Homo sapiens: one gene and its partners. The protein of the gene in region 2 interacts with the protein of the main gene of each other region in a pairwise test. Each region holds a gene or a part of one and is shown on either strand. Other genes may lie near its edges. The genes, in order: HIBADH, CNIH2, CD53 and TMPRSS2.

Region 1 (7,050 bases), on a different chromosome or scaffold from region 2:
GTTAATGTAGTTACATGAGAAAATTTTCTTTTTTCTCATTTGGAACAATTTTTTTGTGCAAAGTAAAACATGCCATAGTTTTGTGTATTAATATAATAAATGTGGGAAAGTGGATGATTATGAACTTGAAAACCCAAAATTATCATAGAATTTCAAAAGCTTAAAAGGAATTCAGTGATGATTTTCTCTAACCACTTCACATCCTAGATGAAGAAACAGGGTGAGCAGCATTTAATGACTTGCTGGAATGATAGAAATGCTTTGTCTGTAATCCTTGGCATCTTGTGCATATCTTGTGAGAGCAGTTATCACATGGTATTACAGTCGTTGTCTGTTTCCTTGAGACTTTCCTTCTCTCTTGCCTCCTGAGAATCTCTTATGTACTAGAGCTAGTGGATGTGAGTGAATGAGCCAACAATCACTGCCCTCATGGAGGTAGTGTTATTCTAGGGGATACAGACCAGAAACAAATGAAACTGTTAAAGAGGTGATAAATGCTATGAATAAAATTGAAGCAGGAAAAGGAGAGAGTGATGAGATGCTATTTTAGATTGTTAGGTTGAGTGGTCAGGGAAGGCCTCTCTGAAGAGGTGAATTTTGAACAGAGGCCTGAATGAACTAAACTATACCAGTCATGAGTATCTGGGGGAAGAACATTTCAGGCAAAAGGAATAGCAAGTTCAAGGCTTTGAGATGGGAACATACTTCACCTGTTTCAAGAACAGCAAGGAGTGCAAGGTGGCTGGAAAGCAGCAAGTGATGGGAAGAATGATATGAAATGAAATAGGAGAGGTAGCCCAGAGCCACATCATGTAGGGCTTTGTAGGACTTGGGATTTTATACTGAGAGGGCTAGGAAGTCTTTGGAGGGTTGGGAATAGGGAACAAACATGAGCTGGGTGAACTAGATTTATATTTTAAGAGGATTCCTCTAGCTGCTATATGGAGAACAGACTACAGAGACAAGAGGAGAAGAGAAATAAAGTAGGAGACTATTGCAGTAATCCAGGCAGGAGTTACCTGTAGCTCAGACCGTGGTAGTAGGGATGGACAGTGAGAGAAGTGGCTGAATCACCAGTGTGTACCTTCTTAGGAGCAGGGACATTTGTGATTCATCCTTCACCCAAGGGCTTACCACAGGGCCTGATTCTTAGCAGGTGCCCAGTTAATTGTGTTGAATAGATAAAACAAATGCAGATTTCTTGTCTTTCCCATTCACTATGCTGCCAGAGAAAGATTTTGCAAGAAGTCTTCACAGTGATGTCATCTTAACATAGTGGCTGTAGACCACTAAAGTTCTTCTTGACCTGTGCCAGCCTACTTCTGTTATTTATAGGTGCGGCCCAAACCCGCTAATACTTAAAAAGAGGGGCTAAAATTATCCCAGAGAAGACAATGGCTTAAGTAACTAAATAGGAAAATGCCCACTTCACAAATTCAAGTTAAAAAGTAGTAAGCCCTTACATTTAAATAGCATTTTTAGCTGGTCACGGTGCTCATACCTGTAATCCCAGCACTTTGGGAGACCAAGGCAGGAGAATTGCTTGAGCCCAGGAGTTTGAGACCAACCTGGGCAATAAAGTGAAACCCCATCTCTACCAAAAACAACAACAACAACAACAAAAACAAATAGCCAGGCACAGTGGCACATGCCTGTAGTCCGAGCTACTCGAAAGGCTGAGGTGGGAGGATTGCTTGAGCCTGGGAAGTTGAGGCTGCAGTGAGCTATGATCATCACACTCCAGCCAGGGTGACAGAGTAAGACCCTGTCTCAAAAAATAAATAAATAAATAGCATTTTTATTTTACAGCATACATTCACATATTCACAGCCAATCTATGAAGAAGTTATTAATACTTTTCCTGTTTTATACACTGAGACTCAGAAGTTAAATAATTTGTCACACAATTTGCCAGCAAGTGGCACATCCCCAAAACAAAATATAACATTTCCAGATCTTTTACCCTTTCTACCATGCTATTTATCAGCCAACCATTTGTTGAGTATATCATGCACTATAATAGATAATGGGGATGCTGGCAAGCCATGACCTCAGTGCTGACTTTTTAGGAAGTTTATAATGGAGGAATCAGACAAGAAAATCCAAGATTTTAATAAAGTATGATAAATGCTGTAATAGAATCAAGCACAGGGTGGATTTTGGTTTTGTATATATAATTAATAAAATATATGTAAAATAAGTATTTCTTTCAGTATTCTAGCAACTACCCGAGTATGCATTGTGTGTTTTTCTATTTTAGAAAATGGACTAGAATCAAAATGGCGTGTCATTGTAATAAATTTCTTCATTTTTGATAGACATAAACATCTATACAATGTCTCCTGAAATCCATAAGCTGTCTTACACAGTTTTAGAGTCGCAGCTTTCTAGGTATTCTTTCCTAAGTTCAAAATGGTTACATTTATTTCAGGATAATTTCAGTCTTTTTGTTTTGTTTTTGAGACAGGGTCTTGCTCTGTTGTCCAGGCTGGAGTGCAGTGGTGCGATCTCAGCTCACTGCAGCCTCCACCTTCTGGGTTCAAGCAATCCTCCATCTCAGCCTCCTGAGTAGCTGGGACTACAGGCACATGCCACCATGCCCAGCTAATTTTTGTATTTTTTGTAAAGACGGTTTCGCCGTGTTGCCCAGGCTGGTCTCAAACTTCTGGGCTCAAGCAGTCCACCAGCCTCAACCTCCCAAAGTGCTGGGATTACAGATGTGAGCCACTATGCCTAGCTAATTTAGGTCTTTGGCTGTGGGACTAGGCTTGATAGTGTTATATGATTAAAGGAATATGTATGAGAAGATAAGATTTGGTTCCAAGGAATGTCAAAACTTTAGAATTACCCATTTTAGTTAGATGCTTACTTTGGGATGTAGGTTATGATGAAGTCGGAAATAATTATGATACCACATCAATATGAGGAAAGAGTCGAACTACCACAGACCTCTGAATTAAAAGATAAATTATTCTTTCTTTTGTGGTCTTCTCTTGCTTAAGCAACTTATTTCTGCTTTTTAAAATATGTGTTTGAATAAGTGAGAAAGTACACCTGTCAAAAGACTAACCAGCTGAGAACCATTGTCAGCATTAATTTTTTTTAAATAAATGACTCCGAAGCTATTTAGCAGTCTGTAATCTAAATACAAAGCAAAACTATTGATCTATGATGGATAGTGCTGGATTTGCTTGTAAGCTTTGACTTAAATCGTCTACTTAATTTCTCTAGGTGAGATCAACAGGATTAGGAGGAATGGTGGTTATATGGTTTAAATAAAAATGTCTAGAAATTGAGCGAAATAATTATAAAACATTAATGGTTTACCATCTTGATAAAGTAAACTAGAAACTAACAAAACAGCAGTCACTTTAATGTTATAAGAATGTTTGAATGACATAGATTGGCTAATTGAAAGCATTTTTTATAAATTGGGTTTTTGTATATAATCCAAAGTGAAGATATTGTAAAATGGTGTAATTTAACCATATGTGTGAGCATCTCAGGTTTTCATAACATGTGGGCACTCACTCTTCCAAGATTGTTTGGCTAGCATAATGCTGACTTTTTTGGCTTTTAATAATTGCTTATGAATAGTATAAACTGTAAAATAGAAAGCTATTTGATTTGACAATAGCAAAATATTCACAATTTGAATGAAATAGGTATCTCTTCACTTGGGCTTTTAAAAAATATATAAATACTGTATTTCATTGAACACATTAAATCCAAAAGCAGGCCATTACCTGCAGCTGTCTAATGGCCAGATTTGATACATACTACAGACAATTACAGTTTCTTTGTTCTTACTGTACTGTAAAATAAGTTCTTCCACATACTTGCCTGGGAAGTTTTGAAAAATAAAGCCTAACTTGAAAATTATGAATCAAGATTTCTTTCAATATTAAAAACAGTAATAGCGCTCTTGGTTTTATTTTATAGTTAATAAAAATTTAGATGAATGAAGCTTTTCCTCTCCCTTTTAGGACAAGTCTAGATTATATTTTCTGTGCTAAATTGAAGGTTCTTTCTCCAATCATTAGAATGAATGAACATGCATTAAGCCTCTGTTAAAAGCTACTAAGGAGTAGTGAAGTCAGTGTTAAAGTTTATTTCTTCTTCTTGCTCATATCACTAAAAATAAATTGCCCAAAAGATGTATAGCAGGAAGGAAAAGAAAAATCAAATAATATTGAAAAGTACATATGAGAATAATCAGTCAAAATAAGCAAAGTTTTCCTTGCCTTAAAAAAAGAATCTACCATCTGAAATGCCTACTTGTTTAAGGAACAAAGAGCCAGGTCTCCCTCTTTGTAGATCTCACTTATAGATAGTATTTGGAGAGTGGGTGAGTGAGCAAGAACCCCGAATCCAAACGTGGGCAGCAGACCTCTCTCTGGCTGCTCCTTTGCTGATCAGGGCCCAGGTAAAACTTTTTTTTTGTATACTTTCTATAACTTAGTAGGTTTCTTAGGAGAATAATAGATGCATGGGAATAATAACATTTACATTTTAAGTTCCCTTATCTGTTAGGCCATGATTGTGCCAAAATGATTAAGGTGAGTTGAGATTGAGAGTACAACTGAATCTGTATGTCTCTCTTGGTTTGTGATTAATCTGGGTGATACTTGATTGCTGAATATTTCTGTAGAGATTTAGAGTATCTTATACATGCCTGGCATAAATACAGATTGGAGGCAGGATGTTTTTAGTTGGTTTCTCTAATTTTATTACCTGCCTAAACATTTTAAGAAATATATTCTTTTGCTTCTATCCCTTTACCCCCAAATGATTCAGGTGTAGGAGCTGCACGATCTGGGAACCTCACGTTTATGGTGGGAGGAGTTGAAGATGAATTTGCTGCTGCCCAAGAGTTGCTGGGGTGCATGGGCTCCAACGTGGTGTACTGTGGAGCTGTTGGGACTGGGCAGGTAAGATTTTTACATTAATGACCTTGACTTGATGATGTAAAATTGACTAATGTTCCTTTCTCTTTCCTGACCATATTTTTATTCTTCTTTCTTCAACCTATGGATTCTTTGCTCAGATTTTAAAACATTTATTTGGAATAAATTAGTTTTGCATCATTCCTGGTGGGCTTAAGCAGACATCAGCCAATTTACTTATTTAAAAAACTTCCATTATTGGCCAGACGTGATGGCTCATGCCTGTAATCCCAACACTTTGGGAGGCTGAGACAGGAGGATCACTCAAGCCCAGGAGTTTGACACCAGCCAGGGCAACATAGTAAGACCCCATCTCTACAAAGAACAAAAAAATTAGTCGAGTGTGGTGACACACACTTATAGTCACAGCTACTTAGGAGGCTGAGGTGGGGGGATCACCTGAGCCCAGGGGTGGGGGATTGAGGCTGCAGTGAGCCATGATAGAGCCACTGCAGTCAGCCTGGGTGATAGAGCAAGAACCTATCTCAAAAAAAAAAAAAAAAAAAAAAAAAACGGGAAAAAAAATTCATTATTAGGATCTTGACATGTCTGTCATCCCAGCAACTAGTGAAATCATCCTTAAAACTGCTCTTATTCGAAGTGCTTGTTTCTGAGTTGCTATTTTCCTCCATCTAATTTTGTAATTACAGTTGACCCTTGAACAACACAGATTTGAACTCCATGGGCCCACTTATACATCTATTTTTTTTCCATAGATATATTGAAAATTTTTTTGAAGATTTGTGACAGTTTGAAAAAACAGATGAACCACATGGCCTAGAAATATCAAAAACATTAAGAAAAAGTTAGATATGTCGTGAACGCATAAAATATATGTAGATAGATACTAGTTTATAAATATGCACAAATCTGTTATAAAGAGTTAAAATTTATCAAAGTTTACAAATATTTATAGACCATACATGGCACCATTTACAGTTGAGAGAAATGTAAAGAAATGTAAAGATGCATTAAATCATAATGGCATAAAATTAACTCTAGTAATACTGTACTACTGTAATAATTTTGTGGCCACCTGTTGCTATTGCAGTGAACTCAAGTGTTACAAGTATTGAGCATAAAATGTCATGTGACACTAATCATCTTTGTGTGAGTGGTTCATCTCTTTAGTAAATTGTGTATCATAGTAAAAATTGATCTCTTGGAATTCTCTTGTATTTTTTTATCATGTTTAGTGCAATACCATAAACCTTGAATGACACCATGGGACCCATACAAAGTGCCACTAGTGATGCTGGAAGTGCTCCTAAGAAGCTGAGAAAAGTCATGACATTACAAGAAAAAGTTGAATTGCCTGATACATACCATGGATTGAGGTCTGCGGCTGCGTTTGCCCTCCATTTCAAGATAAACAAATCCAATGTAAGGACCATTGTAAACAAAGAAAAGAATAGTCATGAACCCATCACTGCAGCTACTCCAGCAGGCTTGCACTTTTTGCAGAACATCTTTTTATCTCACATTGAAAATGCAGCTTTTATGTAGATGCAGGATTGCTGTAGAAAGGCATACTTACATCTAATATGATTCAAGAAAAATATGACAACTTAAAGCAAAAAGAAAGTGAAGGATCTAAAGCTGGAGAATTTAATGCCAGCAAAGGATGGTTTGATAATTTTAGGAAGAGGTTTGCTTAAAAAATGTCAAGAAATAGGCGAAGTAGCTTCTGCCAACCAAGAGACAGCAGACAGTTCCCAGGCGCCATTAAGAAAAAATCATTGAAGAGAAAGTATATCTGCCTGAATGAGTTTTTAATGCAGACAGAAGTGCCCTATTACGGAGAAAAAAAAAAAAAAAAGGATGCTCGAAGGACATTTATTAGGAAGAGAAGCAAGCAGCACCAGGATTTAAGGCAGGAAAGGATAGGCTAACTCTACTGTTTTGTACAAATGCAGTTGGGTTGAAAATCAGGACTGCCCTTATCTATAAAGTTGCTAACTTCTGAGGCTTTAAGTGAAAAGATAAATACCAGCTGCCTGTCTTTTGGTTGTACAGCAAGAAGGCCTGGACGATGAGAACCCTGTTTCTGGATTGTTTCCATCAATGGCTTTGTCTCTGGAGTCAGGCAATATCTTGCCAGTAA
Region 2 (3,582 bases):
CCTGACTCTGGGAGCTGCAGCCTTCCAGCCCCTCATCATATACTGGCTGACTTTCCACCTGGTCCGGTGACCCCCTGGCCCCAGATGGCACTGAGTTTTTCATTCATTGAAGATTTGATTTCCTTGACTTTGTCTGACCCTTGTTCCTGGGGCCTGATGGGGAGCTACAGATACCTCTGCGCCTCTGCATTGCCCAGGGGATCGGGCTTGGGGCCGTCTAGGAAGAAGGTGGACCCAGGGAGGGCTTCATGACTTTGGTGACCTTGATACTGCCTTGTAAGGGTTTCAGCAGCCTCAGCTGGGAAAGAGAAGATGGAAGGAGGCTGCTGAGGGGACCTGGAAGGCGTCTGATCCCTCTGGGGGGCTCCAGCAGGGTCTGTGGGCTAGTGGGGTGAGACAAGCCAGGCTGGGGATTCAGCTTAGGGCTGCCCCCTATACAGTCCCTGTAATCGGCCCCCATCTCCTCTTCAAGCTTTCCAGGAGCAGAACCGGGGCCCACATATTTGCAGTAGTTTATTCATATTTTGTCACAAATGGCCGGGGAGGGGGTGCCGGACTCCTCCAGGCGACATAGAAAATAGGTCCAAGAGACAAGGTGGGCTGAGGTTGGGGCAGATGGAGACAGGGCTGGAGAAAGAGCCTGGGGGAGAGGGGAGGGCAGACTAGGGGTGGGGCTGCCCCCCTGCTGAGCCTGCTCATTCCCGGTGCGGGTACCCCCCCACCTGCAGGGGGAGCCTCAGGGTGGGGGTGGAGGGGGATGGCCCAGAATTTCCAGGGTCAAGCTCTGCCCCTTGGCAGGGCCCAAGTTTCCCCCGAAATGGACAAGGCCGGAGGTCCTGCCCCTTCCAGGAATGACTGCCATGCCCACAGGCTGGCAGAGGAGCCCCTGCCCCTGTTTAGAGCTCTGCCCAGCCGCTCTAGTCCAAGGGGGAGGGCTCTGAAGGCGGGGTGGGGGGGGTTCCCCGCAGCAGCAGTTTGGGGGTTGGAGAGGCTGGGGGCACCAGTGCCCCCTCCCTCCCCAGGGCTGAGGCCTCTGCGGCCAAGGGGCAGGGCTGGGGGTGCACAGGCGTCCGGTCCGTTCTGGGCTCGCTCCCTGGCCGGCTTCCCCCTTAGAAACTCACCAACGTATAAACCATACTGTAGGAAGATGAGCCAGTGAGCCTAGCCCTGCACACACACAGCCACCCAGATGCCCACCTGGTCACACCCTGGGCTGCCCTCAGTCCTCAGGGGCAAAAGGCAGGAACTTGGGATTGGAAGCGTGATGCTGGGACATCCCTTCCCTGAGTTCTGACTGCTGTGGGCAAGGCCTCACCTGTACAGGTAATAGAAGAAGGAGAGCAGGTAGAAGGCAAGTTTGCACCAGGACTCCTTCTGGCAGTAGTTGAGAATGTCAGCATTCATGATGGAGACCGCATCATACATGACCTCAGAGCCATCTGCAGGACGGTGGAAGTACCTGGGGCAGACAGGGGCCTGAGTGTCTGCCATCAGGACTCCCACCCCCATCCTGCCCCTGTTCCCCATCTCAGCCTCCCCAAGGCAGCTGCTACCCTCACCTCCAGAGGTGGTAGAAGAGGAGGGGGATGTTGAGGCCCAGGGTCACCCACTCTGCTGCACACAGAAACATCAGACAGAAGAGGCCGTGGATGGAGTATTCTGGGACCACCAGCTGGGGGAGTGAGGGTGAGAGGTCAGCGGCCTGGTGCTATGACAGACCAGCCTTCAAGGGGACAGAGAGGAGCTGGGGTTTGGGAGGTGCCCACCCACCGTGACCTCTGGGGATTAAAAGGCCTCTGGCTTCCCACTCCCTCCCAAGTAGAGTGGATCAAACAGGCCCAAAGCAGGGGAAGGCCTGGTTCTGGGCCACAGACAGTGGGGGCAGCGCTGGGCTAGGAGCCTCCTGCCCCCAGCCCTGACACTGACCTTCCTCAGGAGGCAGCAGATGCGTTCGATGTTTTTTAAACGCTCGCGCTGTTGGGGGAAGGAAAAGGCCGCGATGGGGTGGCGGAGAAGCAGGTACTGGAGCAGCTCCCACCGCTCCACATGTGGCCGCCAGGGGGCGCCAGAGCGATCTCTGCGGCACTGTCGGCACGGCCGGGAAGCAGCCGCGCCGTCCCCATGGCGACCGTCACCATGGAAGGGCCTTCACCCGCGTCTCCATGGCAACGGCCCAGAGCCTGGCAACCACCGCCCCGCCAAGAGGAACTCAGCCCTGAGCCCGCGCCAGGTGTTTGCTGGGGGCGGAGACAGAGAGGAAGGGGGCATGGCCGTAGGCCCCCCACCCCACCCCCGTCTTCCCGTCTCCCACCCCCAGCCCACGACAGATGGAAAGACAGACGGACGGACACACCTCGGCACAGCACATGTATCACTTACTGCCCGCGCAGGGTTCCCCTGGTCGATGGGGTTCTTGAAGTCGGTCCGCAGCTCATCAAAGGCTATGATCTGGGGGAGGGGCGTGTGCCCGTCAGGGTTGGGGCAGCAGCTTATGGCCTTCCCCCAAGTCCTTCTGTGGGATAGTTTACTGAAGAGGACCAGCCAGGTGGAGCTTGTTGCAAAGGTGGAGAAACCGAGGTCCAGGGAGGAGCAGGGCCTGGTCCAAGGTCATTACAACAGTCCAGAAGGGAACCCTAGCGTCTGGATGCCCAGTTCAGGCCCATGTCCACTACACCCCCTTCCAAAACATCCCAAGACATGGCTTCGTGTCTGCCCTGCCAAGTCTCAGGCCCTGTGCTGAGCACTGGGGCTCCAGAGGCCTGGGATGCAGCCCCTGCCCAGGAGGAACCCAGGCCCAGAGGGATGATCACTCTGCCTTCCAGGTGATCAGGGTTTGGGGTACAGGGAGGACCTGGAGTGGGCGCTTAACCCTGTGTGGGGGGTGAGGGAGTTCAGGCTGGACTCGGAGTAGGTGTTGGTGAGCAAATGGGGGAAATGCAGTCCAAGCAGTAGAAGGTGCAATGGCAGAGGGGTGAAAGGTCAGGAGACATTCAGGAGGCTGCGGGTTTCATGGGGCTGGCGTGACAGCGCAGCGAGCAGGAAGAAAAGAGAGAGTGGTGGAAGAGGAGCTGGAGAATTCAGCAGAGCCAGACATGGGCGCCCTGTGAGGCCAGAGCAGGAGTTTGGACTTACTTTAACACAAAAATTTTGGGGGGAGGCATTGAAGAGTACACAGCAGCAGAGTGGGGTGGTCAGGTCCATGTCTTAGGATTGGTCCATGTCTCAGGATTGGTGGGGCAGGAAATCCGAGCTCACTGACAGTCACAGCTGAGATCTAAGTGGTGCTTCTCCTGGCCGGTATGTGGATTCACTCATTTAATTCTTAACAACCTTATGACTTAGGTACTAGTTTTATTTTCATGTCTGTTTTGCAGATGAGGAAGCTGAGGCAGGTTAAGTGACTTGTCCAGGGCCACACGGCTGGTTAGTGGATTCTAACCCAGTGTGACTCCAGAGTTAAAATTCCTAACCACTGTGTCATACTCAGGCCAGACCAGCAAGGGGACGGTTTGGAGGGTTAGGGGCAGGGCTGATGGTGGTCTGAGTGAGGAGAGTTGTAGTGGAGACGGAAGGCGTGCATGG
Region 3 (7,000 bases), on a different chromosome or scaffold from region 2:
CTTACCCTTATATAAGGAGGAAAATAAGTCTGTTTACTCTTAACTACTCTATTTGGCATTGTACTGGAGTTTCTAGGCAGTGCAAATGAAATATGAAAAGAATGGCATCCAAACTGGAAAGAAAAAAAAGTAAAACTGGCTTTGTTCACAGATATCATGAATGTCTTTGTAGAAAATCTAAATAAATCTACAAAAATACTACTAGAACTAACAAGTAAGTGTAGCAAGGTTGCTAGAAACAAGATTCAATCCACAAAAAATAATAGCATTCTATGCACTAGTAACCATTAGAAATCAAGTATTTTTAAAAGTATCATTTACAATAGCATCATATATGAAATACTTAGGCATAAATCTGACAAAAGTTGTGAAAGAATTGTACACTGAAAACTTAAAAACAAACATTGCTGAAAGAAATTGAAAAGATGCAAATAATGGAGAGATATACCACGTCCATCTACCAGGAATTCAATATTTTTAAGATGTCAATTCTTCCAAATTTATCTATAGATTGTAATCCCCATCAATATTACAGCAGAATTTTTTGTAGGCTTCAAGAAATTAATTCTAAAATTCATTTGGGAATGCAAAAGACTTAGAATAGTAAAAATGAGTTTGATAAAGAACAAAATTGGAGTACAAACACTACCTAATTATATTGCTTTCTATAAAACTACAACAATAAAGACAGGATAGCACTGGTGTTAAATAAATATATCAAGAGAACAGAATAGAGTCCATATGCATATGGACAACTGATTTTCAAAAAAAATACAAAATTAATATATTACAGAATGAAGAATACTTTTTTCAACAAATGGTGCTGGAACAATTGTCTATTAATATGCAAAAATGAACTTGCATTTATACCTCTCTCCATACGAAATCGTAACTAGTGATGAATCATAGATCTAAAGGTAAAATCCAAAACTATAATTCTCCAGAAGGAAATATTTGCAACCTTGGTTATGCAAAGAGTTCTCAGATAAGACACCAAAAGCACAATAAGTTGATAAATTGGACTTCTTCAAAATTAAAAACTTCTGCTCTTCAAAAGACACTGTTAAGAGAATGAAAAGACAAGGCACAGAAGGGACAAAATATTTCCAAATCACACAGGAGATAAAAGGCATGTATCCAGAGTATAAAAACAACTCTTGAAGCTCAATGGTAAGAAAATAAACAATCCAATTTTTAAAATGGGCAAAAGATCAGAACAGACAATTCACCAAAGAAGATACTATATGGATGGCAAATAAGGACATGAAAAAAATTCTCTACTTCATTACTCATTAAGGAAATGCAAATTAAAACCATGGTAAGATACCACTCCACATCTCCTAGAATGGCTAAAATGTTTTCAAAACCTGACCACACCAAGTGTTGGTGAGGATGTAGTGAAACTGGAACTCTTATACACTGTTGGTGGGAATGTAAAATGGTATAACCATGTTCAAAAGCAGTTTGCTCGTTTTGTACAAAGTTAAACATATACTTATCATATGATCCAGCCATTCTACTCCTAGGTATTTACCCAAGAGAAATGAAAGCATATGTCCATACTAGGACTAGTACAGGAAGGTTCATAGTTTTGTAGTATTATTTGTAATAGCCCAAACTGGAAGCAACCCAAATGTCCATAAACAAGTGAATGTATAAATAAATAGTGGTATAATTTTACAATGGAAACTACTTAGCAATTAAAAAGAATGAACTGTTGTTACCCTCTACAGCACAGGTGAATGTAAAAATAATCATGGTGAGTGAAAGAGGTTAAATAAAAAAGAGTACATTCTGTATGATTCCAGTTATATAACATTTTAGAAAATGAAAACTAATCTATAGCAACAGAAAGCAGATCAATGACTGTCTGAGGATGAAGGTGGGGGAGGGCAGGAGGTGAGTAGAGAGGGAGCAGGGAAGGGTGAGAGAAAGGGATTACAGAAGGCCACAACAATCTGTGGTGAGTGATGCATACGCTCAGTGTTTTGACTGTGGTGATGGATTTATGCATGTACACTTACGTCAAAGGCCCCTCCTAATTTGCTCCTGTCCATCACTCCACACTCATGGCAACACCCCCTGTATTATACTTTAAAATTTAGCAAAGCAATATTGAATCCTTGTCTTAATGCTTCCTTCCTTACTTTGGTAATGTGTTTCTTTGCTGAAATTTTCTCTTTTCTTTCTGGCCTCTTATTCTGGTTAGTTACTCATCATCCTAATGATGTGTCACTTTTCCAGGAAGTCCTCTCTGTTTGTGTCTAAGTCTTCACACCCAACCCTCACTTGCCCTAAGGAGTATCTGTAATACCTGTGTACCTCTGCCATTGTACTAACCATTTTGTTTTATAAGTGACTATTCCCTCACTAGAATGTGAGCTCCTTGAGGGTAGGATCTATGCTATTCATCTTTGAATTCTCAAAGCCTCATTACCTCAGAATTATCTGATGTAGTGGAATGAACATGACACTGCAGAGTCAGGAGCCTTGGGCTTGAATTTTCAGTCTGCTAATAAACTGATGTTTTGGACATAGGAAAATAACTAACTCACCCATCAGTAACAGAAAGGAATTGAGCCAGATGCCTCCTAGAGTCACATCAGCCCCAACATCCTGGTATCCTGTGACAATTAGTTCAGGCCCGTGTAACCTGATTGTCCACAGAACACCAGCTGGCTAGGTGCCCACAAACTTAGGGACATTCCTACTGATTCTTTCCTTCACAGACAGGAAGAAGAACCTCTTCTTCCTTCCTCTCCCACTTTCTACCTCTCCAGACTCATACTAAATTGAGTAAGAAAATCTTCTCACCTGGTGAAGATTGTCACTACTTTTGCCACATGCCATAAGGGCCCCAGAGAGAATGCTGCTCCGTTTCCCCTTCCCCTTTTCACTGTTACTGGGCAGTGATTAAGCCTCCCACCCCTTCCAACTACCATCTAGAGGAACCGACACCCCTCCCACAGTCAAAGTCTATGACTCTTAGATGCATGACTCATGGTTCTATGCAAAAAGCCACCAATATCAGTTTCCAGGAAACCTGCGTGACCAAACTGCACTTAACTGTGGCTACCTTCCACAACTCAACATGGAGGTTAGGGATCAACTTTGCTCTTTAGTTTCCTCCAATGGGCTTGAGCTGGTAGAACCTGCGGATTTCTAATTCCATCCCTGTCTTTTTTTTGACCTGTACTAACAGCACCATGTAATCTACTCTTGAATTTAATCAAGCTTAGAAGTGGTTAAGGTTGGATAGAGGCTTCAAGAACCTCGATCAGGCTCGCCATGGTGGCTCACACCTGTAATCCCAGCCATTTGGGAAGCTGAGGTGGGAGAAGCCCTTGAGCCTAGGAGTTTAAGACCAGCCTGAACAACATAGAGAGACCCTGTCTCTATTTTAAAATTTTTTTAAGTTAAAAAAAAAAGAACCTCTATCAGTTCTTCATCTTCAGCCTTATCTGATCCAATATTACAAGCTAGGCTGGAGCCACATAAGACAGCTTTGGTGCTACATAGACCATTACGCTTATGAGATATTAGTAAGTGCTCCTCAAACAAAAGCCAAGATAAAGAAAAAAAAACAGTGTAAGAGAAAAACCTGTTATATGCTAATGTGCACTGTGAGTCTCTAAGACAAAAATATGTTTATATAACTACAAACCTAGTTTTATGTTGCAGATCACTTATTAACAGGTCAAATAACATAGTATTCTGTGGAACACAGTTTGATAAACACTAGCTTTGGAATCAGACAGGTCTAGTTTTGAATTCTGTTAGTGCTACTTATCAGAAGTGTGACCTTGGGCAACTTGCTTAACCTGTCTTTCACTATATCTTTGAAATAGGGTTATTAATACTTACCTCAGAGGTTGTTCTGAGGGCTAAATGAGATACTATTTCCAGGATGGCTCAGTCCCTGTGTATCTGCCTTATTCAGTGAAAACTCACTGAAAGATCAAGTTCAGACCTTACCTACCAGTCCATTCCTAAGGGTAACCCTTAGCTTCTAACAGATTTTTAGGAATAAAACATACACGGGGCAAGAATAATCCCTTGCTTGTTTCATACGTTTTAAAAAGAGGTTTCGTGTGCCATTTGTAAAAAAAATAAAAAAACAAAAAGAAATCAAACAATAAAGAAAAGCACATGTTTTTTTTCCATTTGTACCTATTAGAACAAATTGAAAATGTTAAATTTCAGTAATAAAAGATAAATAAATAAATGCAAGTACAGTTTCTGTAAGACTTCCTTTCAGTGAAGAAAAGCGTTTAATAGAAAAACACCTTTGTATGCTAAGATTGAGAATACGTTATTAGAACACATTTCTTTCTCCACTGAACTCTGTTAAGACATGTTGGAAAATCCCAGCAATAAAAGGCAAATGTAAGCACAGTTTCTTTAAGATGCATAAATTGTTTTCTTTCAGTGAATGGAAGTGTTTGGTAGAGAAACACCTTTGTAAGCTAAGATTGAGAATATATATTATTAGAACACATTTCTTACTCCATTCAAACCTATTAGAAAAAGTTGAAAAATCCAGCAATAGAAAGCAAATGTAAGCATGCTTTCTTTAAAAAAAAATTCTACATTTAAAAAATAAAGAAAAGTATAAAGAAGAAAGCATAAAATCTTCTGAAATCCCACCTCCCAGAGATAACCATCATTAGCATTTTGGCAAACGTCTTTCCAGACACTTCTCCATATACATTTCTCTATATACAGATTGTCAATTTACATACAAGAGCATTCGCAAGGTAATTACGGCTCCCTATCCCTTCCTACACAGAGCCTGTGGCAGTCTTTGTTCCTTAGCAAAGACAATTGAGGCTGTGATTAAGAAAAAGTTTTTCTAAATAGGAGCGAAAATCTGCCCCAGTGAGGGCTCCCAAATGTAGGCCTTGCTCAAACAAACTGAGATACATAATAGATAGTTCACTGAATCCCACAAAATAACTAAGTTCCTCATAAATGTCTTATTTATAATCCTCAAATCGGCCTGACAACTTAGGTGTCATTAGCCCCATTCTGCAAATAGAGAAGCCGAGGACTGGCACAAGGTCACCCAGCTAAGAATCATCAAAGGCAGGGTGAAGGCCAAGTTCTTTCAGCCTCCAAAGCCCATGCTCTTTCCACCGTCCCAGGCTCTGGTTTTGTGCCTATTACTTCCCAACTCATTTGGTGCAATGTGTTGAGCATCCAGGAGAAGACCTTCCATTTTTCATCAGCTCGTTTGAACTCCTGTGAGCAGTGGCTGAGGTGCAATCAAAGTTATCGCTGTACGTCCTTTTGAAGAGTAATAAGCAGTTGTAGAGGAAGAAGTAGGGGTAAAATAAAACGAAGCCAAAGCATCAACTCTCATGTATTCGTGTCCATTCATCTCTCCATCAACTAATCAAGGAATATCTGTTATCTTATTCCTTCCTAAAATTGTAATCTGATAAAAATTTTGTTTCTTCTAGGTCGCTGTTAGGGGAGAGGATTTGGCGATTTATAGAAGAAGAGAGAAATAAGGAAGAAGAAAAGAGGAGAGAAAAAGTGAAGAAAGACAAATCCAGATGATCTTGGAAGCTCACTTCCTCCCATGTGGGAGCTTAGCAAGATACTAATAACAGCTGAGGTGGGACAGGGACTCTTCTAATAAGCTTACTTCGTAAATCAGGAACAGTTACCTAAAACAGTTAGCACTGTTACAGAGTCAAGAGACCAGAGGTTCTCCGTCCTCCTAGGTAGAAATATGCAGAACTTTACATACGGGGTCCCTCGGCTAGAGGCCTGTCCATGGTGTCTGCAGGCTGGCTATGCTCAGATTAAGCAAGACTCTTTGTGGGATAAGAAAAGCCACTTTGTTGGTATTCCTATCAAAAATTTAAATAACCTGAATCTAATCATGAGGAAACATCAGATAAACCCAAATGGAGAAACATTCTAAAAAAGAACTGACCTTACTCTTCAAGAATATCAATGGCAAGAAAAATTCAGGAAGTGTTCCAGACTAAAGGAGACAAAAGTGACAGTTGAAGGCAATGCGTGACTAGAAATTTCCTTTTGCTATAAAGAATATTAAAGAGGTAATTGGTGGAATCTGAATAAAGTACATAGATTGTTAATTATATTGCATAAGTGTTAATTTCCTGGTTTTGATCATTGTAAAGTAGTTATATAAGAGAATGCATTTGTTTGTAGAAATATACACTAACATTCTTAGGGGAAAGGGCATCAATCAAATTACTAATTACTGTCAAATGAGAGAGCCAGAGAATAAACAAATGAAGTAAAATGTTAATATTTTGGAAATCTGGGTGAAAAGGATTTAGAAATTTTTCATAATATTTTTTCAACCTTTTTATCAGTCTGAATTTTGTCATTTTTTTAAAGGGATGGGAAATAAATAAATGATCTAAGGGATTCTCATCTCAAAATCATTACAATTTGTCTTCTATGTTATAAATACTGAGATTCTACAATAGTTATTTTAAGAAGACTAAACTATGGAATAATTCTTGAATGCCTTTATTTGCTCCTGATATAAGGTAAGCCATAAGTTCAAATTTACTTTAACAAGTAAACTTTAACAAGTTTTAAAAGATATGAGGCATTAAAATCATTTCTTACCCCTATTCCTCAATCTAGTTCTCCTGAAATAGAAAAGGCCAAACAAAAAGGTTTGGAAAATAAAATATATGTTAAGTATTTAGTTTGCTAGCATAGTAGCTTAAGATCAATTACATTTACAATTAAGTGGTATTTTTATGTTTGCTTATGTTAAAATGCACTAGGAATTTATGTAAATGAAGAATACAGTCTAATGATGCTTACTTAATAAAAAATCTCTTAGAAAAGGGACTATAGTATAATGTAGAAGAAAGAGCATGCCATAGAGAATCAGAAGACATTCTGAATAACTATTAAGTAATTTTATGATTTTTGGACAAGTCATTTTACCTGAAAAGTAAGCAGATTGGACAGTTGCGACAGCTCCTATTTATTGGCTCTCATT
Region 4 (7,050 bases), on a different chromosome or scaffold from region 2:
AACCCTCCATAAAAATGAAGCAGCCAGGCTCCCTTCATTTGAAAGACTGTCAGAGAGAAATGCAGATTGCAAAGGAAGTGGGTGGAGAGAGCCTCTCTCTGTGGTTATCAGGGCAGAGGACAGGCTTAGATGTGGCCACCATGGGTCCAGGATGCCCGTCCTCACCAAGCCCCCTGTCACTCAGCCACGCAGGCCTTGGTGGGATCTCCAGGGCAGCTCTAAACTCACAATGAGTGCAACACAGGAGATCCTGCACCTCTAAACTCGTATGGCCCAGATACTTCAAAAGCCATTCCACATGCTGCTCTGTGTGATCACGATAAGAACACAGTGTATTAGGTAGGCTGGGCAGGATTTCTCCCACTTAGCAGATGGAGAAACTGAGGCACAAGGACTGGGGGAATCAACCAAAGTCATCCAGTCATTGAGTAGTAGAACTGGGATTAAAACCTGGACCTCCCACTTCCGAACCCAATGCTCCATCTGTGGGCCCTGCAGTCCTGTGTGCCCAGGAGCAGCCTCACCTTTCTCCTCGGTGGCCCCCCACCCGGAAATCCAGCAGAGCTGTTCTGGCTGCAGCATCATGCCTGGGTTGGGCAGACACACTGGTTTCACTAGGTCTGTTTCAAGAAGAGAAAACACAGTGAGCCAGGCGGGTATCACCTATGTCTCCACCTGGCCTTCCCACATGCAGGCTGCTGGGCCTGGCACCCTGGCCACCCTGCCCAGAGGACCCTGCATCCCAACAAGTCCCACATTCTCACTTTCTCCCCCTGCCAGACCTCTCCTTCTGGCAGGCAAGACGTTATGCTACTTATAAGTAGAATTATTTGCTAGCTCTGCTTATAAGAGGAATTATTTGCTAGCTCTGCTTCCAAAATTACATATCTCCAGGTGATCAAGACGGGAAAGACACACAGGAGGCAACAGCCAAAAAGCCGATGGAGTCAATGGAGTCAGCTTTCGCCCCAGAGGCACCACGCCATTGCTCAGGCATTCGCTCTTCTATATGTGAACCATTTCCCAATGTGAATACAGACATGCTGTAGGGAGGGCTGAGGTTTTGCTTCTTCTGTATCCACATGGGGCTAGAACATTCCAGACCCTTGGATGGACCAGAGTGGGACCGAATAAGAGGCTAAGAGAAAGCATGTTTGTCCTGAATTAAGCAACTTGGTTTTAGAATGTATCTTTAAAAATCAAGGATCTTTACACATTTTAGGCCAGTAGTTCTCAACTGGAAGTGACTTTGCCTCAAAGCGGATGTTTGGCAATGTCAGCAGGCAACACTGGTTGTCACAGCTTGGTAGCTACTGGCCTCCAGTGGGTAGAGGCTGGGGACGCTGTTAAACATCCTACAAGGCACAAGAGAGCCCTACAACAGAGAACCACCCAGATGTCAAGGGTGCTGCAGTGGGAAAGCCCTGTTCTAGCCTTTTCCATGCCTGGCTTGAATCACCACCACTCAGTACAGTACAGAACAGATGTGGTGGCTGCTGCCTCCCCCAAAATGCGGCAGGTGCTCTTAGCCTCTGTGAGCCTCTCCCATTGGCCACCCGCTGCACGCTACCCTCGCTCAACGCAAATGCCTCCCTTCCATTTGGCATAGCACAAGTGTCATTTCCAATCAACATCTCTTTAAGATTCTGCCAACCTGCTTGCCAAGCCTGAGCCACACGTACCGTTGAAAGTCAGAGGCTTCTGCAGCTTCATCAGCGCAATGTCATTGTTCTTGGTCTTGGAGTCATAATTTGGATGAGAAATCACTTTTTCTACTTGGTATCCGGCTCCATAGAACATGAAAGATTGTCTCAAAATCCCCGCAAATGCCGTCCAATGCCATGGATTGTTAAGAGGTCTGGGAGAGAAGAAGGACTCAGTATCTCAGAGCCATAAACACAGAGCTCTCAGTGGATGAACTTCCAACGTCAGAAGCTGGAGGCAAGACACCCAGAGGCAGGATGGTTCACCAAAAACCACACAGGGAGATAGTGGAAGAGGTGCTCGGTCTCCCCTTCTCCCCCACACTCCCCCAACCCCGACTCCCTGCCTCAGCCCCCCACATCATCCTTCTTTCTGGCTCTTGCATCACCTTCAAGGAATCTGCAGCACCCACAATGGGCCGACATCCCTCCCTGGGGTTTCAAGGCCATTTCTAGCAGGACTGGCCCTTATTTTCCTTTGTACGCCAAAGCATTTCCTGGCACATGGTAGGTGCTTAATAAATGGATACTAATGAACAGACTTGTCCGATATCAATCAAACCATTTCCTTTATCCAAGAGTTTCCCTCTTAAGAGAATCCCAGCTCCTAGTGGGCCCAGAGCACCCAGTGGTGTGAAGAGGGGGAGAGAAGGGAGCACCCTTGGGTAACAGCCCTTGAGAGAAACCCAGTTCCTAGAGGGCCCAGAGCACCTGGGGGTGTGAAGAGGGGGAGAGAAGGGAGCACCCTTGGGTAACAGCCCTTGCTTCCTTGACCTTCATAACAGCCCGAGAGGAGAAGGGCATGCCCATCTTATAGTTGTACATGCCATGGATCAGAGACGTTGAGTGAATCGTCTAAGGGCACGCAGCAAGAGAGGGCTGGGCCAACAGTCAAACCCAGTTCAGCCTCTCTCTAAGGCAGAAAAATACATCCGCCAAGTGAGGCCTCCTCCAAAGCAGCATGTGACCAAAAGCACTATGTGTTTAAGGAAAAGGGGAGGGGGTGGTAGCGTCCATAAATGCTAATACTGTCACGGCTAGCCTCACCCCTACCTAACCCTCTGCATGAGCAATGCTGTGGCCAAGAACGCTTAACCCCAGGGACCTTCCAGCAGGGCAGCCTGAAGCCTGTCTGAGTGTGCCCTCTCCTGGGACTAGCGTCCCGGAGACAGGATACCTCAGGGGGCAGGGGCTTTGCTCAAGGGCAGGACAGAGCTCAGAGGACAGTGGCTGGAAGGAACGCTGGTCACGGCGACATCGTGGAGAATGTTCCACCTGCACCCTGTGCCCTGCGTGCAGGGGACACTCAGTGCATACAGCCATGCACTGCCTGGCATGAGCGCACTTGATGTCTCACAGCCCTAGGAAGCAGGTGCAATACTCTCCCCATTTAAACACAAGGATGCCGGGGCTGCAAGGGTTGAGACCTGCTCAAGGTCACAGGGTGGCTGTAGGCCAGCCCTGAGCCCCCACCCGGCCCGCGCCGCCCCTGGCATACTTTTCCACGCAGTGGGCGGCTGTCACGATCCACTCGGGGGTGATGATGGAGCCTCCGCACACGTGGACGTTCTGGACGTGCAGGCTGACCTGCCAGGGCCAGGCCCCCGGGAGCGCGCTCTCGCCGCCCACAATCCTGCTCTGGCGGCTTGAGTTCAAGTTGACCCCGCAGGCTGAGGATGACAAACAGGAGGCCAGTGGGGTGAGACCAGCAGAAGCCGCCCAGCCACCCAGCGCCCGCCCCTCCCAAGGGTCTCCCAGGCTGCAAGGACAGGGCAGGGGCACCACTGCTGGGGATGGACTTAGGGGGCTCCTGGGGGTCTCCTCTTGGGGAAGGGAGGATGCCCCTCCAGCCCACCCAGACCCAGGAAGCACCACTTCCCTGAACACTCCTGTGATCCCATGGGGTCTCCCGGGACCCAGGTGGGGGTGTTCTGGATAACAAGGCCCTGGGGACTCCTTGAGTCTTGGAGGGACTGACACCACTCAGGGACCCCAGATTCTCACACAAAGAAAAGGAAGATGGGAGGGGCAGGGCTGGAAGTGAGTGAGGGGGTGAGGAGACGAGGAGGTGAGTGAGAAGGTGAAGGGGTGAGTGAGGGAGTGAGTGAGGAGTGAGGAGGTGAGGGGGTGAGTGGGTAATTGAAAGGATGAGGGAGTAATTGAGGGGGTGAGGGGGTAATTGAGGGGGTGAGGGGATAAGTGAGGAGGTGAGGGGGTGAGTGAGGAGGTGAGAGGGGTGAGGGGGTGAGTGGGGGGTGAGGGGGTGAGTGTGGGGTGAGGGGGTGAGTGGGGGGTGAGGGGGTGAGTGGGGGGTGAGGAGGTAAGTGAGGAAGTAAGGGGGTGAGTGAGGGGGTGAGTGAAAAGGTGAGGGGGTGATTGACGAGGTGGGGGGGTGATTGACGAAGTGAGGGGGTAAGTGAGGGGATGAGCAAGGAGGTGAAAGGGTGAGTGAGGGGGTGAGGGCATGAGTGAGGAGGTGAGGGGGTGAGTGAGGAGGTGAGGGGGTGAGTGAGGAGGTGAGGGGGTGAGTGAGGGGGTGAGGGGGTGAGGGAGTGAGTGAGGGGGTGGGTGAGGAGGTGAGGGGGTGAGTGAGGAGGTGAGGGGGTGAGTGAGGGGGTGAGGGGGTGAGGGAGTGAGTGAGGGGGTGGGTGAGGAGGTGAGGGGGTGAGTGAGGAGGTGAGGGGGTGAGTGAGGAGGTGAGGGGGTGAGTGAGGAGGTGAGGGGATGAGTGAGGGGGTGAGGGGGTGAGGGGTGAGTGAGGGGGCGAGGGGGTGAGTGAGGGGGCGAGGGGGTGAGGGGTGAGTGAGGGGGTGAGGGGGTGAGGGGTGAGTGAGGGGGCGAGGGGGTGAGTGAGGAGGTGAGCGGGTGAGTGAGGAGGTGAGGGGGTGAGTGAGGAGATGAGGGGGTGAGTGAGGGGGTGAGGGGGTGAGTGAGGGGGTGAGGGAGTGAGTGAGGGGGTGGGTGAGGGGTGGGTGAGGTGGTGAGTGAGGGGGTGAAGGGGTGAGTGAGGGGGTGAGTGAGGGGGTGAAGGGGTGAGTGAGGGGGTGAGGGGGTGGGTGAGGGGTGGGTGAGGGGGTGAGTGAGGGGGTGAGGGGGTGAGTGAGGGGATGAGGGAGTGAGTGAGGGGGTGGGTGAGGGGTGGGTGAGGTGGTGAGTGAGGGGGTGAGGGGTGAGTGAGGGGGGTGAGGGGTAAGGAGGTGAGGGGGTGGGTGAGGGGTGGGTGAGGTGGTGGGTGAGGGGGTGAAGGGGTGAGTGAGGGGGTGAGTGAGGGGATGAGGGAGTAATTCAGAGGGTGAAGGGGTGAGTGAGGGAGTGAAGGCATGATTGAGGGGGTGAAGGGGTGAGTGAGGGGGTGACTGAGGGGTGAAGGTGTGAGTGAGGAGGTGAGTGAGGGGGTGAAGGCATGAGTGAGGGGGTGAATGGGTGAGAGAGGGGGTGAGTGAGGGGTGAAGGGATGAGTGAGGGGGTAAGTAAGGGGTTGAGGGGGTGAGGGGGTGAGTGAGGAGGTGAAGGTGTGAGTGAGGGCGTGAGGGGGTGAGGGAGTGAGGGATTAGTGAGGGGGTGAGGGGTTGAGTGAGGAGGTGAGCAGGTGGGTGAGTGGATGAAGGGGTGAGTGAGGGGGTGCAGGGGTGAGTGAGGGGGTGAGGGGTGAATGAGGGGTTGAGTAGGGGGTGAGTGAGGAGGTGAGGTGGTGAGTGAGGGGGTGAAGGGTGAGTGAGGGGGTGAGGAGGTGAGTGAGGAGGTGACGGGGTGGGGTGAGGGAGGGATGAGGGGGAGAGTGAGGAGGTGAGGAGGTGAGTGAGGGTTGAGGGAGTGAGGAGGTGAGTGAGGGTTGAGGGAGTGAGGGGGTGAGTGAGGGGGCGAGGGGGTGGGTGGTGAATGAGAGGTTGAGGGGGTGAGTAGGGGGTGAGTGAGGGGGTGAGGGGTGAGTGAGGTCTGCTGCCTTCCCTGCTTCCTGTGTGTGAGTGTCTTCTCCACCAGGAGATGAGTGCATGGGCAGAGGGCAGGGCGGGTGCCACGCACCCTTGGGGCTGTGCTGGACCCCCACTCAGGACCTAAAGAAGACCTGAGCCAGCCCTGCCGGGATGGGACGGTGTCAGCTCCTTCCACCTCTTCAAATGAAAAGCTGAGCTCAGGACCACGGCCCCACGACAGCACTGGGCCATCCCAGAGGAGAGGGACGGTGGCTTCCACATTTGCAAACAGTTTGGAAACTGTAAGCACTCTAAACACAGAGATGGGGACACCCAAGTCTAAGCCACCGTCCAAAATTCAGGAGAGAAGAGGCAAGAGCACTGTTGTTCTCTGGTCTTGTCCCTCCTCCCGGGTCCCACTGGCTGATGAGCACCTGGTGGCCACACGGTGGTGCTGGACCACAGCCCCGCAGATGCTCCAAGTCCACGTTAGGTGGCTGCCAGGGCTCACTAACGCCACCCCCCTTTGCTTTCTGGAGAAAGAGACCTGCCGGGCCTCCAGCTCATGGGTGGCATAAAGTGTAGGGCTTTGTCAGCTTCTTGAGCGTGCCTGATCTCAGGGGGTGTCCCTTGGACCCAAGGCTGAAGGTGTCTACAGGCCATGGAAATCTAAACCAGGAGCTCCTTGGAAAGAGCGAGACGCCGCTGGGCACATTCCAACCCGTGACCCCACCTTCTTCCCTCCCACGCCCCCAGAGACACAGGGAGTACTGTTCTGAAAGTAGAGAGCTTTTCCTAGTTAGAAGTATCAAAAGGGGGACTCCAGATGAACTTACCTATACAGCGTAAAGAAACCACTGCTTTTGAAGAACAGGCATCACTGCAAAAAGAACAGGGGAAATTCTGGTCACGATAGTGCGGAGTCACCTGCCTCTCACATGCTTAGAAATCAGTCATTTCTTCCGATGTTCCCTCTCCTGTCTTCTGAGACATAGAAGGGTCTGCTAGTTACAACTCCAATAAGGTAAGTAAATCCATATAGGGACAGTGGCAAAGACCAGACACTGAGCCAAGGTACGCGGCTCACATCCCCACAGTGTGACCTTGGGCAAGTTACTTAACCTCTCTTAAAATTGTACCAGCTCCTAGGACGGTTGTGAGGGTAAGTATACAATAATGCTAGTTTTGTTTTTCCTCTTGGAATTTAAAATCATCTTCTAATTTTTAAGGAAGCCATTTGGAAACCTCTGGGCTCCTATAACTGCTTTAAATTTGTAGTGTTGAAAGCAATATAACCAATAGTTTCCCTAGGATTAGAAGAAACGTAAGAGTTACTCATTTGGGAGTCAAACATCCCAGGTTATGGATGAAGAGGAAGTAACTGATGCATTTTGTCCTGCAGTGAATTTCCCAGGCTATGCTGAGAAGGGAAG

The links.
Region 1: the proteins of CNIH2 (region 2) and HIBADH interact in binary tests that used the Homo sapiens proteins (3 or more experiments, as listed by UniProt).
Region 3: the proteins of CNIH2 (region 2) and CD53 interact in binary tests that used the Homo sapiens proteins (3 or more experiments, as listed by UniProt).
Region 4: the proteins of CNIH2 (region 2) and TMPRSS2 interact in binary tests that used the Homo sapiens proteins (3 or more experiments, as listed by UniProt).

What each region holds. Positions count from the first base shown.
Region 1 is NC_000007.14:27,540,848-27,547,897, reverse strand, and holds part of HIBADH (3-hydroxyisobutyrate dehydrogenase, mitochondrial isoform 1 precursor), read left to right. Parts: intron 1-4,797; coding exon 4,798-4,931; intron 4,932-7,050.
Region 2 is NC_000011.10:66,281,125-66,284,706, reverse strand, and holds the end of CNIH2 (protein cornichon homolog 2), read right to left. Parts: exon of another isoform or gene 3,202-3,582; coding exon of another isoform or gene 3,133-3,201; intron 2,449-3,132; coding exon 2,380-2,448; exon of another isoform or gene 2,354-2,379; intron 1,975-2,353; coding exon 1,927-1,974; intron 1,673-1,926; coding exon 1,560-1,672; intron 1,460-1,559; coding exon 1,316-1,459; intron 1,138-1,315; coding exon 1,110-1,137; 3' UTR 501-1,109; downstream 1-500. Other genes in the region: protein YIF1A, read left to right, coding at 1-70. UniProt on the Homo sapiens protein: Regulates the trafficking and gating properties of AMPA-selective glutamate receptors (AMPARs).
Region 3 is NC_000001.11:110,876,148-110,883,147, reverse strand, and holds part of CD53 (leukocyte surface antigen CD53), read right to left. Parts: exon of another isoform or gene 5,514-7,000; coding exon of another isoform or gene 5,463-5,513; intron 1-5,462. UniProt on the Homo sapiens protein: Structural component of specialized membrane microdomains known as tetraspanin-enriched microdomains (TERMs), which act as platforms for receptor clustering and signaling.
Region 4 is NC_000021.9:41,470,124-41,477,173, forward strand, and holds part of TMPRSS2 (transmembrane protease serine 2), read right to left. Parts: intron 6,498-7,050; coding exon 6,454-6,497; intron 3,374-6,453; coding exon 3,202-3,373; intron 1,859-3,201; coding exon 1,683-1,858; intron 621-1,682; coding exon 525-620; intron 1-524. UniProt on the Homo sapiens protein: Plasma membrane-anchored serine protease that cleaves at arginine residues. Participates in proteolytic cascades of relevance for the normal physiologic function of the prostate.